Linked DNA regions of Homo sapiens. The protein of the gene in region 1 interacts with the protein of each later gene in a biochemical or structural test. Each region holds a gene or a part of one and is shown on either strand. Other genes may lie near its edges.

What was found. The genes of interacting proteins can lie anywhere in the genome.
Region 2: the proteins of LIMK1 (region 1) and DGKK interact in a test that uses a peptide from one of them, tested with the Homo sapiens proteins (one large-scale study listed by IntAct).

Annotation. Positions count from the first base shown.
Region 1 is NC_000007.14:74,097,304-74,100,803, reverse strand, and holds part of LIMK1 (LIM domain kinase 1), read right to left. Parts: intron 1,773-3,500; coding exon 1,566-1,772; intron 1-1,565. UniProt on the Homo sapiens protein: Serine/threonine-protein kinase that plays an essential role in the regulation of actin filament dynamics. Acts downstream of several Rho family GTPase signal transduction pathways.
Region 2 is NC_000023.11:50,376,826-50,380,325, reverse strand, and holds part of DGKK (diacylglycerol kinase kappa), read left to right. Parts: intron 1-248; coding exon 249-345; intron 346-591; coding exon 592-699; intron 700-1,634; coding exon 1,635-1,748; intron 1,749-2,093; coding exon 2,094-2,228; intron 2,229-3,407; coding exon 3,408-3,500. UniProt on the Homo sapiens protein: Diacylglycerol kinase that converts diacylglycerol/DAG into phosphatidic acid/phosphatidate/PA and regulates the respective levels of these two bioactive lipids.

The DNA.
Region 1 (3,500 bases):
AGACCACACCACTGCACTCCAGCCTGGGCGACAGAGCGAGACTCCGTCTCGAAAAAAAAAAAAAGAGAGAGAGAAAGCTAGCACTTGGGCCGGGCACGGTGGCTCACACCTGTAATCCCGGCACTTTGGGAGGCCGAGAAGGGAGGATCACTTGAGCCCAGGAGTTTGAAACGAGCCTGGCCAACATGGTGAAACCCTGTCTTTACTAAAAATACAAAAATTAGCCACATGTGGTCACCTGTAGTCCCAGCTACTCAGGGGGCTGAGGTGCAAGAATTGCTTGAACCTTGTGGGTGGAGGTTGCAGTGAGCTGGTATCACACCACTGCACCCCAGACTGGGCGACAGAGTGAGACTGTCTCAAAAAAAAAGAAGTGACCAATTGCCCAAAAGTAGAAACACTGCATGCTACTTCTCAAGGTGTCAATAAAGGCGCCACAGAAATCTTAGAAAGCTCCAAGGTATCCAACTCCCTCATTGTTCAAACAGACCCCCAAAGCCTAGAGAGAAAGCAGCTGCTCAAAGTCACACAGTAATCTAATCTTTATCAGCCCTGCCCCATTTTTTTGAGACAGGGTTTTGCTCCATTGCCCAGCCTAGAGTGCAGTCGTGCAATTATAGCTCACTGTAGCCACTTCCTGGGCTCAAGAGATCCTTCTGCCTCAGCCTCCCAAGTAGCTGTGACTACAATGTTTCCCAGGCTGGTTTCGAACTCCTGGCCTCAAGTGATCCTCCCATCTCAGCCTCCCAAAGTGTTTCGATTATAAGTGTGAGCAACCATGCCCAGCCTTTATGTGTTCAGTGATTTCACCATGCCTGGCTAATTTTTAATTTTTTTTTTTTTTTTGTAGACATGCAGGTCTCGCTATGTTGCCCAAGCTGGTCTCAAACTTCTGGCCTTAAGTGATCCTCTCACTTTGGCCTCCCAAAGTGCTGAGATTACAGGTGTGAGTTACTGCGCCCAGCTTCTTCACTCATTCTTGACTTGGTTCCTCCTCTTTCTTGTTGGATCAGACATGGACTAAAGAAAATGTCTTTTTATTTTTTGAGTGTGTTTTTTTTATTTTTATTTTTTTGATACAGAGTTACACTCTTGTTGCCCAGCCTGGAGTGCAATGGCAGTCGGGGCTCACTGAAACCTCCACCTCCTGGGTTCAAGTGATTCTCCTGCCTCAGCCTCCCAAGCAGCTGGCACTATAGGCACACACTACCATGCCTGGCTACGTTTGTATTTTTAGTAGAGACGGGGTTTCACCACATTGCCCAGGCTGGTCTCGAACTCCTGACCTCAGGTGATCCACCCACTTCGGCCTCCCGAAGTGCTGAGATTACAGGTGTGGGCCACCATGCCCGGTTGAAAATGTCTTTTTATTGTATCTGGCATTTGTAATGGTATTCAGAGGAATGACTGGGCCAGAAATCTGGCAAACCAGGTTGTCAGAACTGGGCCCCATCTGTACCCAAACACTCGCCCATTCATTTTCAGGGCCCCCAGTGCCAGACTCTGCCACCCACATCAACAGCCATAGCCACACCGACGGCAGCCTCGGCAGGCCGGCCACTCACCCCTGGACGCGGACGGTGTGTGAGTGCTCGGTGCCACAGCCCGGTGGGCCGTGCGGGGGGTCAATGGAGACTGAAAGTCCACGCTTGCCATGAGATGAGGCTGGGATGGACACCAGGGTGACGGTGTGGGGCAGGTGGGAGCCAGGGGAGTCAGGCAGGATCTGCTCGATGACGGGGGTCACCACAGTCTGGTAGTAGCAGTGCCCGCTGCAAGAGCCGCCGGGGTGGGAAGAAAAGAGTGTCAAGGGCGTCATCAATTTCAGCATCTCTGCAGCCCCCAGCCCCAGGCTCTTCCCCCAATCCCTTCCTTTTTTTTTTTTTTTTTTGAGATGGAGTCTCACTCTGTTGATTACAACACTGCACCCCAGCCTGGGTGACAAAGCAAGACTCTGTCTCAAAAGAAAAGGAAAGCTAGCAATTGTCCAAAAGTGCAGTGGTGTGATCTTGGCTCACTGTAACCTCCGCCTCCTGGGTTCAAGCGATTCTCCTGCCTCAGCCTCCTGAGTAGCTGGGATTACGGGCACGCACCACCATGCCTGGCTAATTTCTTATTTTTAGTAGAGACGGTTTCACCATGTTGGCCAGGCTGGCCTCAAACTCCAGACCTCAGGTGATCTGCCTGCCTTGGCCTCCCAAAGTGCTGGGATTATAGGGGTGAGCCACTGCACCTGGCCAGCTTTCTTTTCTTTCACTCTTCCTATGGAACTGGGAGCAGGAACTGTGCGTGCCCAGCCAGCCCTCGTCCCTCTGAGTCATTCGGGTCTGTCTACTCGCTGTGATCCTGTAAGGCGGCCAGGACAAGGCCTGAGGATAAATCCAGTTCAGGAGGAAGTCATTAAAAGCCCATCTGGGATCAAGCCACGTTGTCCTCTAATCCAGCTTGATCAGTGTTGTATAAGAAAGAATCTGTCTGGGTTTTGTCCTGATTCCTGGGAGGGAGACTCTAAGTCCTTGGAATGGGGTATCTTTGTTATTCATGAGCCCCTCAGACTATTCCTGAGTTGATACTAATGAGATGACTCAGCCCCGCAAAGATACATCATGTGATTTGAAGAGGGTTGCAGCTTTCATCCAGCCTGACCTCCAAGAACGGGGGCTAGAGACTAAGCTTGATCATACGGCCAATGACTCAATCAGTCATGACGATGTAATGAAATCCCAATAAAAACTCTGGCTGCTGAAGCTCAGTGAAGCTTCCTGGTTGGTGATCACATTGATGTGCTAGGGGAGGGAGGGGAGATGCTTCTTCATTTGGTCGGACCTGAGCTGTGTCCTTCATAATAAAACTGGGATAAAAATGGAGGATTTCCTGAGTTCTGTGAGTCTGTTAGCAAACGATCAAACTTGGCAGGGTCTTGGGAGTCCCTGAATTTGTAGCCAGTCGGTCAGAAGTGTGAGTGGGTTGGGGACCCCTGAACTTGTGGCTGGTGTCTAAAGAGGGAGCAGTTATGCTGGGGATGGTGTCCTTAACTTGTGGCATCCACCCCACCTCTGGTGGTTTGTGCCAGCACCATGCTGCAGTCATGGCCAGTAAGAAAGCTGACGTCTGAGGTTTTCTGTTTTGAGACAGAGTCTTGCTCTGTTGCCTAGGCTGGAGGGCAGTGGTGCAATCTTGGCTCACTGCAACTTCCACCTCCCAGGTTCAAGAGAGTCTCCTGCCTCAGCCTCCTGAGTAGCTGGGATTACAGGCACCCGCCACCACACCTGGTTAATTTTTGTATTTTTAATAGAGATGGGGTTCCACCATGTTGGCCAGGCTGGTCTTGAACTCCTAGCCTCAAGGGATCCACCCACCTCGGAATCCCAAAGTGCTGGGTTTACAGGCGTGAGCCAGCATGCCTGGCCGTCTGAGGCTTTTTCACACTGACTTCTGTGTGTTATTTCTCACTTGTTTCCATGCCGGGATGGGAAAGGAGATATGAACATTTGCCCCAA
Region 2 (3,500 bases), on another chromosome or scaffold:
GTAGCAAGCAGAAATGGAAAATTTATTTATTGATAGGATACTGAGGCTTCAAAGGGGCCCAGGAACCCATTTCTTCAAGTGTTTGCATTGGATATCAGTTACATTAACCGCTGTCCAGTTGCCATTTAGCATGACTCCTCTCTGTAAGAAGGCATTTGAGAAGTAAGATGGTTTTCCTTCCTGTCTTTTTCCACCATTTATCTATATATCATTCACCCTCTGCTTTCTTAATGCTTACCTCCATGTAGTAGCCGCCTTAAGAACAAGATGTGGTATGGCCTTCTGGGAACCAAAGAACTTTTGCAGCGCTCTTACAGGAAACTGGAAGAACGAGTGCATTTGGAGGTTAGTGGAAAAGCGGGTAGTCTTTCCTGGGTATGGAGAAAGGAAATCTCATGGCCTTGGGAATACCGTACATGCTGATTCTTCCTGAGCTTTAACTCTGTGATCCTCACAGCTCATGGGAGGAAGGCATGAAGATAGATTTCCATGTAATGGAAGAGAAGACAGAGCCCTTTCCCCATCTCTGTAAATGTTCCTTCATGTTGCTATCTAAAGATCCAGCTAATGAGAGCTACTCTTTTCTTTCAGTGTGATGGAGAAACCATCTCCTTGCCAAACCTGCAAGGCATTGTAGTGCTCAACATTACCAGCTATGCTGGAGGTATCAACTTCTGGGGAAGCAACACAGCAACCACGGTTAGTATGGAACAAGGAATGGGGAGGAAGAAAGGCATGATCCCACTAAGGTCTCTCTGAAGGAAGCATTGTGCTAACTGAAGTGAAAAATAGACAATGGGAGAAGAGGAGGTGGTCCGAGAACCTTTATTAGCAGCAGCTGTATGATCAGTTTTTCAGGCAATTACCATCCGAAAGCAGAAAATTCAACCAAAGACCTCAGGATAAGGTCAACTCGTAGGTGTTGCCTGGGCTTTGGATTTTCCATTCCTCGGGTCTGACAGATCCTTTAAAGGCTATCTAGACCATGCTTTTTTTTTTTTTTTTTTTTTGAAACGGAGTCTTGCTCTGTCATCCAGGCTGGAGTGGCAAGATCTCAGCTCACTGCAACCTCCGCCTCCCAGGTTCAAGTGATTCTCCTGCCTCAGCCTCCCGAGTAGCTGGGATTACAGGCGCCAGCCACCATGCCCGGCTAATTTTTGTATTTTTAGTAGAGACAGGGTTTCGCCATGTTGACCAGGCTTGTTGACCTTGAACTTTTGGCCTCAGGTGATCCACCCACCTTGGCCTCCCAAAGTGCTGGGATTACAGGTGTGAGCCACTGCGCCCGGCCAAGGCCATGCTCTTTTCTCCAAGGAATTCTGTCAGTAAAATCTCCTGGGATGCTGACCATGACCCCTTTACTCTGAGTTTACCCAAGAAGGTCATAAGGCCAATAAGACTGGCCTCAGGTATTTATGATGCTGGATTGGAAAAGGAGGGAACTGGCTAAGAGTGCAGTACCCTTTTCCCAGATTGGCTTTCTGACCTCATCTTTTTCCCTTTTAATAATGAAGTGTTTCCACTCTTCATGAGCTAGAAAAATTCTCACCAGGAGCCTTTAAACATGCCTTCTTGTTATAGACAGGGTGTGATTTCTCAAGGGTGGGAGATGTGACACAGTTCTTCCTCCTCAGGAATATGAGGCTCCTGCAATCGATGATGGGAAACTGGAGGTGGTGGCAATCTTTGGTTCTGTGCAGATGGCAATGTCCCGTATCATCAACCTGCATCATCATCGCATTGCCCAGGTAGGCAGGGGCTGGGTGGGCACTGGGAAGGGGCTGAGGTTTTTGACTGCTACCCAGGATGTGGGATAGTCCCAGGAATTAACTGGGTAGAAGAATGCCAGGGTGGAGTGAGCAGGTTATCTGGTGGGCAGTAAAGTGCTGACTGAGGTTGGAGGCAGAGGTGGCAGAAGCCAATGGAGCAAAAAGCCCATAGGAAACAGGCATTTCTTCCTGGGATGATCTGATTCACATCCTTTCCAGTCCTGCTTCAGATACACATTCAAGGCCATAACTATGAGATTATCAGATAGAGTTACAGCAGTTGCCCCATTTTTCTCTCCCATTCTTCCTCATTTTCTCTGGCAGTGCCATGAGGTGATGATAACCATTGATGGTGAAGAAGGTATCCCAGTGCAGGTGGATGGGGAGGCCTGGATTCAGAGACCAGGCCTTATCAAAATTAGATACAAGAACGCTGCCCAGATGCTGACAAGAGATCGGGTAAGGGGGAAAATCTTGTCTTGGGCTCCTATACTGCCTCATCCATAGTCACTTGAGTACTGAATATTTCCACTCAAGCAGAATTCCTCAAAAGGAGGTCTGTGTGCCCCTGGCATCAGAGTCACTTGAGATGCTGGTTATAAATGCATTCTTGGGCCCCCACACCAGACCCACTGAACCACATAGGGTTGCATAGTTCCCAGGAACCCAAATTTGCAAACAGGCTCCTCAAGACACTCTGATATATACTGACATTTGCAAACACTGTCCAAGAGAGTGAGACAAGGAGCTTCCTCCCCTGGTTTTCGACAAGGTTATCCTCCTCTTTCCACTGCAAAGAGAGCTAAAAGCGTCAGATGATTATGGAAAAATCTTCTCCTTCAGCAACAGATTCTGCATTGAACATGGTCTTTAGGTGTCTCTAAGGTTCCTTAAAATGCTGCATTAATACATGTCATCCACTTCAGCTAAAGCTTCTAAAGCTTATAAAGGAGCTATTATTGATCACATATTCAATGCTTGGAGGTTATCTTGCACTCTAACCTGTGAAAAGTCCATGGAAACAGCAATAGAGAAAGGAAGAGAAGTCCAGTTTATAAACTGCCTATTCTGTGCTAGGCATTTTACATTTCTCTCATGTAGGTTCTCTCCACAATCTTATGAGGTGGATACACTTATTCCCATTTTACAGATGAGGAAAATGAGGACCAGAGAGGTTAAATAATTTGCTAATGGTCACACAACTAGTAAATGACAGAAACACGATTCAAAATTAAATTAGATATGTTTGGCTCTAAACTGCATCACCACATATTGCCTACATTTGGCAAAGAAGGGAGCATGAAAGGTGCTCCACTGTCTTGTCAGTCATGATGCCTTCATATGGGAGCTTCTAGAAACCAGACATGTGTATGATCCAAGCCTGGTGTCCCAAAATCCAGCATACTCAGAACAACAAAAACTAAAGGGCATAGTCCAGAAGAGATTGAATAAAATGATGGATACTTGTATAGGTATATAGATGGGTATGACAGGGGGAATGGACAGGGGGCCCTCCTTCCCCTCTACCCACTGTACCCACATACCCATTGCCCACAAACGTCAGGCTCACAGACAGATCTGTCATGTGCACTAGTAGCTACAGCAATCATTAGGATATGCCACTGTATTCATCTCCAGGACTTTGAGAACTCAATGAAAATGTGGGAATACAAGCATACTGAAATTCAAGCTGCCCCTCAACCCCAGCTGGACTTCCAGGACTCTCAAGAG